2 separate regions of the Homo sapiens genome follow, and region 2 is linked to region 1. Evidence: fine-mapped expression QTL. A gene starts in region 1. The other region holds a variant in brackets. All regions are shown on one strand. Distances are from middle to middle.

Region 1 (5,365 bases):
AGCCTGGCCAACATGGTGAAAACCCCCCTCTACTAAAAATATCAAAACTAGCCAGGTGTGGTGGCGGGTGCCTGTAATCCCAGCTACTCGGGAGGCTGAGGCAGGAGAATCGCTTGAACCTGGGAGGCTGAGGTTGCAGTGAGCCGAGATCATGCCACTTGCACTCCAGCCTGGGCAACAGAGCAAGACTCCGTCTCAAAAAAAAAAAAAAAAAAAAAAAAGAATTCCTAAGCTAGCCACACTTAGGTTTATTCTCTAGTCTTCTGTTCCCAAACCCTGAATACATGTTCCTTGGAGGAAACAAGCAGCAACCAGATGTCCAAGGTCTCCTGAGTTAACTCCGTCTTCCCTGGTGAATTACAACTTATTGCAGACACAAAGGAGAACAGAGAGACAAATGACACATAAACAGGAGCTTCACTGGCTGGGGGAGGGGGGCATGGAGAGTGACGTCAGTTTTCCCAGAAACCCATTTATCACGATAACAAGGTCTCGAGTGCTTAGGCTGCTCTTTCAGCTTCAGAATCTGGCGTACAATTATGTTCTTCATCATACAGTATGGCAAGGCCAGCCAGAGCAAACTGGAGCCATGCAAAGCAAACCAAGTGGCCCTAAAGCACCCCCTCACCCCCATCTGCAGAACAAAGGGCATCTCTAGGTTGCCTGAGTTGTGCCTGAGGTGAAACACACACAACCTTCTGGAATGTTCCCCATTGCAACATCTGCCCTGCAATCCTAATCCAGGCAAGAGAAACTGGTGAGAGTATGGAGGACAGGTCGATGCAAATTCATTAGCTGACATGAAAAATCATTAGCGTCATTTTTGGATGGAGCTAGTGTAATCCCAGAGATTAATTCCTCTACTTCAGCTATACCATCTCTGAAATGCAGGTAACCAGGAGCAGAAAAGCCACAGCAGAAAAGAGGGAGCCCTCAAAACACTAAAGCAATAAACAACGAGAGTGCCAATCTTGGGGGAAGAAAATTCTCTCAAATTGCATCATCACAGAGAATGTCCCCTGTCTACTCCTGGTCCTTCCACAACATGACTGCATAAAGTGCTCTGTGCTAGGGTGTGCAGGGGGTGGAGGAGGTTCCGAAGAAATGATCCTGCCCTTCCAAACAGGGACAAAAGAGACATTAATACATATTCTGTAGAGAAAATATTATCAGATTCTGGCTTCAGATTTTGTAAAATCAATTTCAATTACACCAAATACCTAGAGGCTTTTTTTTTGTACTGTAGTTGCATTGCATGAACTATTTTCCTAAATAAGTAAGCTACAAGGTTGAAAAACATTTTTATGTGGTTCAGAGATTTTCGTCAAGTAGTATGTGGTGTCATGGGATTTGACCTACCTCTGTCTCCCACTCCTTCCTCACCTCGGGGTGCTGGTGGGCTTATTAAAGTCCCAGATACCCATGGATGAATAGAATAGCTAGGGTGTCCCCCCCAAATGGAATTCATCGCCCTTTGCAACCAAACTTCTGGTTTAAAAAACAAACATGGAGCCTCAGGTCACTTCAACATGGTTTCTCTGCACATCCCAGGCTGGAAAACTTCAGTTCTTTAAATGAAGATTTTTTTTTTCCCAGAGTCGGTCGCCAACAAAAAAAGAGACGGCACCGCTTTTGCGAGTCTCACACTTATTTTCCTGAGTCTCCATAGAAAGAAGCCAGCTCCACAGGTTTTGGCACACAAGCCCAGTTACACTGAACATGCACCCGAGACAGATCCTCAGAGGCCCGCTCCAAAACATGCCAAAATACGCAGCCAGCCACCTACAGGCCAGCCAACTGCACCCCACACTGACGCACAAATGAGACCCAGAGGCACACAGCACAAGCAGACAGAGAGGCGTTCGGACACACACCACAGAGGTGAGCACACTCAGAGAAACACGCGGACTTCTTTGGGTCACAGACAGAACCCCGGCGCCGCCGCCGCCCGCCCGGGAAGACACGAGCGCGCGCGCGTGCACACATACGCGCACACCGATACACACACAGACGCAGTCACATATGTAATGCATATAGAGAAACCCTATCCCAGCCAGTCACCTCCCCGCCCCCCTCGCCACTCACCGCCTTCTGCCCCAGGCTAACCCCAGCCCCGCGCCTCTTTGCCTGTGCGGTCCCGGGTCACAACGGGCAGCCGTGCGCAGGGGCGCGGCAAGGCCAGGGTGCCAGGGACCCGGAGGGCTCGGCGGCTCCTACGGCCATTCATTCGGCAACGCCCCAGCCGTGGGGCCGCAGCTGCAGCGAGGGAGGCGGTGGCGCTCACTGCGGCTCTTGGGCAATGCAAGTTCAGCCGCCGGCCCGCAGGTTTTGCCTGCCCCCCTGCCGCCCCCCGCCCCCCGCGCGCCACCACCGTTTTCCGGGACAGGCTGAGGGACTGAGCTGCTGACCCCGGGAGCAGAAGTCCCACCGTGCCCTTGGCTCCTGGATGCTGCCCACTGCCCTCCTCGCGATGTGGCGGCGGCGGCCAGGTCTCCTTGACCCTCACCAGGCCCTCGGCCCCGGCCCTGGCACCCAAGCTCTGCACTTACCACCTGGCGAGCTATATCGGTCGCTGCCATCGCTCCTGCGTCCGCCAGGGCTGCCACGGGTGCCGCCGCAACGGGAGCTACTGCACAGGAAACAGAGGAGCTCCTCCGACAAAGAGAAAGTGTTACACTTCGGGCGCGACCAAGTCCGGTGGGGGGAGGTGCAAGGGAGGGGCCCCCTCGCCGCTGCTCCAACCCCAACCTCCCCTCTACCGCCCACCCCTTGAAAGTAGGGTATGGAGAGGGGGCGGATTTAACGCGCCGCTTCCCCCTATGGCCAGACCAGTTCCAGTTCTTCCTGCAACCCCAGCCATAGGCTTCTACGAAGGGGGGCGGGGGCTCCCCTCGGTGACCACGTCCTCTGCCCCCCCCGCCACTTGGCTCCGTGGTACGTCCCGACCTCTGCTGAATTGTCACACCCCCCTGCTCTCCTTTACATCCCTAAGTCCCCAGACCCCGAAGGCTGGAAGGGAGCCCCCGCCCCTCCCCCCTCCCATACTCTGCTCAGCGGCCGAGCTCTGCAGTTCTCCTCCCGGCCCCCGTTACCCCCCTTCCTTTCCACCGAGATCCCAAGGTGCTTAGATGGGTGCGCCTTGGCCGCTGGAGTCTCGATGCCCCACTGTCGTGTCTCCCTCCCTCCATGGCCCGGGAGCGCAGCTGCGGCCGAGGTACCGGGGAGGCCTGCGGCACCTGCCGCTCCACAGTAGAGCTTAGAAAGGGGGCCCGTGGGGGGAGCCGCACTGCAGCCCGGCAACTGAGCTGAGCTGTGGCATGTGGGGTCCGAGGCTAGAGGTCTTGAGACGCTGCTTCTGCCCTGGGGTTTCCAAGCCTTGGGTGCTGTGGGCTGTAATTTCGTGGAGCCAAGCTCACCACCTTTGGGTACCTAGTACAGACGGAACCCACGCCTCCTCTCTCCGACCCAGCCCTAGACGCTCAGCAAGACCACCCACCCCTTCTAGTACCAGAGGAAGGGCTGGAGATGAAGGTTCTCAGCTCTATGGAGCGAAATGGAGGGGCGGGTGACGGGGAGCGGCCTCCAGTCACTCTGTCCCGCCCCCTGATTTCTCCTTGACCCTCATTCAGCCCGGGACAAGGCGGCCAATAGGGCGCAGAGGAGAGAACTTCCGAAGGCAGGGGTGCGCCCGCCCGCCCTCCTTATCCCCGTGGCCCACCTCCGCGGGTCCTCTCTCGTGGGCACCTCTCCACTTCTCCGGCCTTGGCGCCCTCCCCTCTCTCTTGGGACTGGCCTCTTGCTAGCTCCCTGTCACTGGAGCACGCTGGCAGATTTGGCATGCCCGAGGCCCCAGCGGGAGGGACAGTACATTCCACTCCTCAAAAGGGCAGGTTCCCTGGTGTGGGAGAGAGACCTGGGCCCGCCAGAGGGACCCCAGATGGGGGAGGGGATGACAAGGCTATGGAGGAAACCCGGGCCCAAGAGGGGGCCCCAATGGAGCATGGAAGATGACCCCGTAAAGGCCCAAGGCTGGAGCAGCTGAGGAGGAGGCAGGAGAGAGGGAAAAAGAAAAGAAGGAACCAGGGAGAGAGAGGAAGAAGGGACTCGATCCAGAGGCCCTGGTCTCGGAGAAGTCAGGGAAGACAAGAAAATGGAGTAGCCAAAGAAGAGCATGCCTGGCACTTGGTTCCACCTGCTGGATGGAGCTTCTCACACTCTCTCGGGAAGCCCTTTATGTATGTACCCTGTGCGCCTGGAGAACAAGGACTCAGCAAACGCATCCCAGGGCCGAGTGCAGGGCCTCGCAGTCAGGAGGCACTCTATTAAGCTGAGGGCAGAGAACTTGGATGCGTGCGAGGGGGGCGGGGAGAAGAAAGAAGAGACACAGTGAGGGAATAGCAGTAAGGACAGTCATGAAGAGCCAAGTATTCAGGGAGCGCCACTGTGCGCCTTCATTGTGCTGGAGACCCAGGAGCGGCCTAAAGAGAAGAGCCTGGCAAAATCAGGGATCAGCGCAGAGGAGCTCCGCGAGACAGAAGGCGCAGGCCATAGGGCGGATGGCGGTGGCAAGGAAGAGGGGCAGCTGGAGTCTTTCAGACTCTCTGGAGCTTTGGGGCAGGGCCTGAGCCCTGGACTGGGTTGGCAGTGACACGGGGGACCAGTGCTATATCTGAGGAACCACGGTGAGGCTTGGGCCCCAACCGCATGGGGGCGGGGAGTCAGAGGTGACTGGCGGCTTCCAGGCTGGGTGTCTGGGACAGGGCTCTTCCCTGGCAAAGGCTAGGGCGTGGTGGACTGAAAGGCCCCGAGGTCACTAGCCCCGATCTGGACTTGGGGTTTGGGTGGTGGTGGGACAAAAGGGGAGAATTTGGAAGCCAGAGCAGAAAGCTGCTGCCGGAACGGGAGGGGACTGGAGGGCTGCGGGTCTCCCGGGAGAATCCCCCACGCACTGCCCCGCCCGCCTTAGCACTCCTCGCGGACTGAAGCTCCGTACTTACCGGCCCAGCGCTGGGGGCACCTGAGCACGGAATCCTTGGTGTCTCATCCATATGCCCCATTCGGCCCTCCTGTCCCTAGAGACTACCAGAACCTCACTGCGTCCTCCTCCTCCAAAACGCTGAACCTCGAAGACCTGAACTAAGTGCTTAATTCAAGTCTCCTGGGACCCTTTGGTTCCTCCAATACCTGCCCACCTGCGGCTACAAGTCCCTCCTGGGGCCTGGGCCTCCAGCCTCCTTCGGTGGGGTGTGGGTCAGTGTGTGTGTTGGTCTTGATGTGTGAGTAGATGTGTCGGTGTGTTCGTGTGTATTGTCAGTGTGTGCTAGCTGTGTGTCTGTATATCTGTGTGTCAATGTGTGTGTTGGCA
Region 2 (5,365 bases), 51 kb before region 1:
CCTATCAGCCACGGCCCAGTTTCTAGCTGTAGACTCTGAGGACCAGAGACCTCTTCTACCCACAGCGCCATCCTTGGCCTTGTCTTGTGCACTGAACTGACTAGCCCTGAGGGTAAGTTAACATATGTCAGGCAGATCACAGAAGGAACTTTCCTGAGTGTAATACAATATGTCTAATTGCTTTTCAATTGTGAAATAATCATACATACAAAGAGCATGAAATGTGTATGTACAATTTAAAGAATTTTTGAAAAATTAACACCAATGTCTCCACAACTCAGGTTAAACATTACCAGTACCTTGGAAGCCCCTGAGTGCCCTTTCCCAATCTCATCCCCCTCTATCCCTCAACTCCCCTGGCAGAGACTTAATCCTTCTCCTGACTTTGGGGATTATCATTCCTTTGTTTTTCTTTATAGTTTTACCTCTTATGTATGCATTCCTAAGAATATATATCTTGTTTAGTTTTGCCTCCTTTTGGAATTCATACAAAGGGAATCCAATGGTATGTTTCTTTCTTTCTTTTTTTTTGAATCTCACTCTGTCGCCCAGGCTGGAATGCAGTGGCAAAATCTCAGCTCACTGCAATCTCTACCTCCCGGGTTCAAGCGATTCTCCTGCCTCAGCCTCCTGAGTAGCTGGGACTACAGGCACATGCCACCATACCTGACTAATTTTTTTTTTTTTGTATTTTTAGTAGAAACGGGGTTTCACCATGTTGGCCAGGCTGGTCTCGAGCTCCTGACCTCAGGTGATCCGCCTTCTTCGGCCTCCCAGAGTGCTAGAATTACAGGAGTGAGCCACCGCGCCCAGCCCCAACACGTAGTTTTTTTAAATCCCTTATCCCCCTCCCACCCTCCCACTATCCAGTCTTTTTTTTTTTTTTTTTTTTTTTTGTATTTTTAGTAGAGATGGGGTTTCACCATGTTGGCCAGGATGGTCTCAATCTCCTGACCTCGTGATCCGCCCGCCTCGGCCTCCCAAAGTGCTGGGATTACAGGCGTGAGCCACTGTGCCCGGCCTATCCAGTCTATTTTAAAGAATATCTGAATTGTTTGTAATTATTTGTCATTACAAACAACACTACTGTGAACATTCTTCAGGTGCACTTGGGCAAGAACACATGCTTTTTCGCACACTCCTTCCTACCTTGCAAGTCCTTGTGTTTTAGGAATACCTTTCCCATTAGAAATTAGAGGGAGCTTGCTCCCATCAGAGCATCCCAGTATGGAGCCAGAGTTAGCTTGCTAGTGACCCCTATGGCTATTTGGGACCCATGCCGAATGAGCAGAGACTTGGGACAATTTAGAAACTTGTCATATAGTGGCTGGGGACAAACAAAGAGACAGACAAAAGGGGCTTCCTGTGTGTAGCCCTTCCCGGAGACTCACTCACCCTGCACAGTGCCCCAAGGATACTGCCGCGCCCTCATCATCTTGTTGCCTATCTTCAGTTCTTCTGTGCTGCCAATGACAGCAAACGGCAGGTGGGCCTGAAACCGAAGGCAAACGAAAGCTGAGAACTGCAGAAGAAAGGCACTGAGTGTTACACAACCCAACTGCTGTTCGTCTCTGGGGCCCCAGGCCCTCACCCTGCAATGTCCCTCACTGTCATCATCACCAACAAGCATTTATTAAGTTCCCAAACCATGTGAGGATAAGAGGCCTAGTCCAAGCCTCTGCTGTTCAGAAATTCACAATAGAGGGTAACAATGACATGGCTGAATGCATAGGGAACAAAGAGAGAAAATAAGCAGAATAATAAGCAGACACACAGATTACCAAACTATTCGCTATTCATAGTTACTGCTGAGGGGAAGAGCCTTTGGAAGAAGGGGAAGTGGAATGAGGGGGGTTCTGTGTGGATAGAGAGGATAAAGGAGTACCAAAGGGTCTGGGATCACTGGCCCTTCTCCCTCCCTGGCATGCAAGAGCCCCAAGACTAGGTCCATACTGAGACCACACAGCCAACTGAGCTGTACTCTCCTTGTTCTCATCCTTCCCCGGAGAAAGAGCTCACATTGAACTTGTGAGCCTAGAAGGCAAGTCACCAAGGATTTACTCACATGACCATGCTGGGTTCTTCTGTAGGTGCTATAAGGCAGACAGAAGCAGCAGAAGACACGCTCCCTCGCCCTCTAGGAGCTTACAGTCTTGTTGAGGAAGCCCAAATTACATAACTCAAGTCATATAAGATAGTATGTGATCAAGGGCTCAAGTATATGGTCTGGTACCCTGTACATAGTAGGTGCTTAATAAATACTTCCTGAATGGCAGTGGTAGGGCTAGGGAAAGAGGAAAGAAAGGCAAAGGACAAATAGGTTTATGAGCTTGGTGCTCACAGGGAAAATGAGGAGCTTGGCCTGGCTTTA[T/G]GGATGAGAGAAGAGAGAGCTGCCCCGACTTGGCAGTATGGGGCCTAGGAAACACTCACAGAGCCGTAATCCACAAGGAGCTAGCCAGCTTGTAAGTGCTAAGTCACCACAGCCAGATGGAACCACGGAATCAATGTTTACTGACCAGGTGAGCCCAGGTGGGGCTTTGCCCAAAAGGGCTTTACACCAACAGGTAAAGAGCCTATGGGGAAAGTTTCTTAGCCTGCCTGCAGAAACAGGCCATGATCTCAGATATTCTGACCCATTTGCCCACTCATCCATTCTACAAATATTTACTGAGCTCCTATGATATGTGCTAGGCATTAAGAATGACGTAATAGCAAAAAAGCACAGACCCTGGCCCCGGAGAGTGCACAGTGTGCCAAGGGAGAAAGCCATCTCAACAACGATCATACAGGAAGATCAGGGTTGTACCAGAAGTGGAGGTTGCAGTGAGCCGAGATCGCACCACTGCACCCCAGCCTGGGTGACAGAGCAAGACCCAGTCTCAAAAAAAAAAAAAAAAAAAAGAAAAATCAAGGTTGTAAACAGAGGCTAAAGGGCTGGAGTAACACAGAGGAGGGAGCAATTCTTGGGAAGTCAAATAAGTTGTTTCAGAGTAGGTAGTGGCAATCATACTAACAGCATTAGCATTAGCAATAATTTGTTAAGCCCTATGCACTGGGTACCAGCTGCTTTACATGGCATTGTCTCACTGAATCTCTACAACACTATATGGTAAGTTGCCTTATTAGTCTCCTCTTTAGATGGGGAAACTGAGGTCCAGAAGGGCTAAGAGACTTGTCAGCAGGCACACAATAGTAAGGAACAGAATAACTTCAAACCCCACCCCTTGCTGGTCTGCTACCTCCATTTAGGGGGTTCAAGCAGTAGATGAGGTGCGTACTCTAAACCTTGGGGGGAACTAGTTGTGCAAGACCAGATTATCAGAGGCAATTCAATTCAGGGAAACCCACAGCAAATCTGTCGCTTGTTTGTTTAATCCACAGGCTGATCTCACAGTCAATTCTTTTCTCCATTCTCCTCTAGCTCTGGACCCCAAAAATGTCCTTCAGAGCAGAAGAACACAGGATTTCATCAGGAGCTCAGCTCCAGGACCTCCACCAGTCCCTCAAATTGCTTGGCCGCCAGCTGAAGCTGCTCTTCTTTCACCCTCTCCACTCTCAGCTGCTATCAGACGATCGTCTCAGACACCCTCCGACCCCTCCCCACTCCACTGACTGTCCCTTAAATCTGGACATGGGAAAGAGGAGGTTATGGATTATGGAAGGTGGGTGTGGGGTGGAGGTGGGAAATGTTTCATCAGTCCTGGGAGGGGAATGACCAAAAGAGTAACTGGGCAAGTGACACACAGGGCATTTGGGAAGCACTGAATTCCTGAAAATGCTGCCCAAGGGCCTAAGCATGTCCAATCTTTGCCAGGAGAGTTGATCTGGGCACAATTCATCCCTACTCAGGGACCTAAGACATATCGGGAGCCTCGAATCCACCCCTAAACACTTTCTGGGAGGACATTTCCCCTGGAGAGACCCCACAGCTTCAGCCACATGACACAGAAGAGCCAAGGGGTGGCGAATGCAGAGAGCTAGACTGAGGGAGGAGGTGATAAAGAAAAACCACGTTGTAGCACTCCCTCCTCCTGGGCTCTCAGCTGTAAGTGATGGAGGAGGAAGGCATGTGAATTGGGAGGTGCTTCTCTGAGCTCGAGGAAAAAAAAAACCAAGAAGAAAACAAAGGCATACAAAAATGTCAGTATTCCCTCGGGCCTGTTGCATTTTTACCATCAAGAGACACCGTCAGAATGATAGGGTGACTTGCTTCCCCCTCTTTCTCAAACTGCTGTCATTTTATTCTTCTAGCTCAAAAACATAGCCCCAGCCCTCCCACAGCACGCTCCTTTGCAGCTGGCGTCAGTCTGCTTTGATAAGTATATGCAAGGTAGGCATTTCCCAGCGCTCTCCTTTGGTTTGATTTTCACAACATCCTTCTATGGCAATGATTAAAAGATCCATTCGTGAGCTGAGGGAACTGGGATACATGGAGGTTAAACGAGTTGCCTAGGTCCCTAACCCCCATGCCCAGATCCTCTGAAGCAGCAGCGAGGCCACCGAGCTTTGGCTGCCAACCTCTCCCAGCCACCTAGGGTGGTCCGCACTCTGCCTCCTGGCTACATGGCATCTGCTAGAAGGAAGCAAACCATGACAAGCAGGAAATCATGGGGACCAGGCTCTGGCCCTCTGTTCCACTGCTTTTGAGAGACAGATGGCTTTGACAACCAGAATAGAGTCGAGCAGAGCAGAGAGCAGATACCCACCCTCCCCCCGCACCACCACGGACCATACTTCTAGGTCCTACCAATGGGATCCAAATCTGAGGCCAGGCTTTCTGCTATTTTTCCCAGGTCTCTGCAGGAAACTGACAGACAGTGGTGACATTTTCTATGTGTGGACCCAGGGAAGAGACTCTGATAGATGCAGGGCAGTGTTGCTGCTGAAACACAAACAGGCCTCTCAGGAGAGTCTGTGTGACTCTCTCACTCAGACTTCCAATGAGGCGCCCTCGGATATCAGATTTCCCAGTGTCAGAAAACTCCAACAAGAGATAGTCGCAAGCCTTCCTTGGGAGTCCATTCCTAGATTCACCATCTGTCTTAGTGCATTTTGTCTTGCTACAGTAAACTACCTGAGACTGAGTAATTTATCAACAATAGAAATTTATTCAAAAAAAAAAAATTTATTCCTCATAGTTCTGGAGGCTGGGAGGTCCAAGATCAAGGCACCAGCATTCTGGTCTGGTGAGGACCTTCTTGCCGCATCCTCACACAGCAGAAGGACAAGCTAGCCCAACACTGCATGATGTCTCTTTAAAAAGGGTCTTCGGCCAGGTGTGGTGGCTCACGCCTGTAATCCCAGCACTTTGGGAGGCCAAGGCAGGTGGATCACGAGGTCAGGAGTTCAAGACCAGCCTGGCCAA

Alleles and levels. Positions count from the first base shown, and alleles are read on the strand shown. Sizes are in standard deviations (SD) of each study's normalised expression.
In carriers of allele G in region 2, the expression in macrophages of the gene that starts at base 2,642 in region 1 tends to be lower than with T alone (large effect, 0.80 SD a copy in Alasoo 2018).

The links. PIP is the estimated chance that this variant, and not a neighbour inherited with it, causes the effect.
Region 2: its variant is the best candidate, but not a certain one, in a credible set for the expression of SEPTIN6 in macrophages (Alasoo 2018, PIP 0.57).

The regions. Positions count from the first base shown.
Region 1 is chrX:119,690,527-119,695,891 of GRCh38, forward strand. SEPTIN6 (septin 6) reads right to left here and starts at 2,642. Exons shown (of 11, transcript NM_145799.4): 1 at 2,550-2,642. The coding sequence starts at 2,579. RefSeq lists enhancers at 1,656-1,705, 2,526-2,655 and silencers at 2,196-2,325, 2,836-2,885.
Region 2 is chrX:119,639,297-119,644,661 of GRCh38, forward strand. SEPTIN6 (septin 6) reads right to left here. Exons shown (of 11, transcript NM_145799.4): 6 at 1,396-1,492. Among named protein-coding and RNA genes, the nearest start is that of MIR766, 4.9 kb to the right of the region's middle. RefSeq lists an enhancer at 26-75. The variant T/G (reference allele first, on the strand shown) is at 2,372.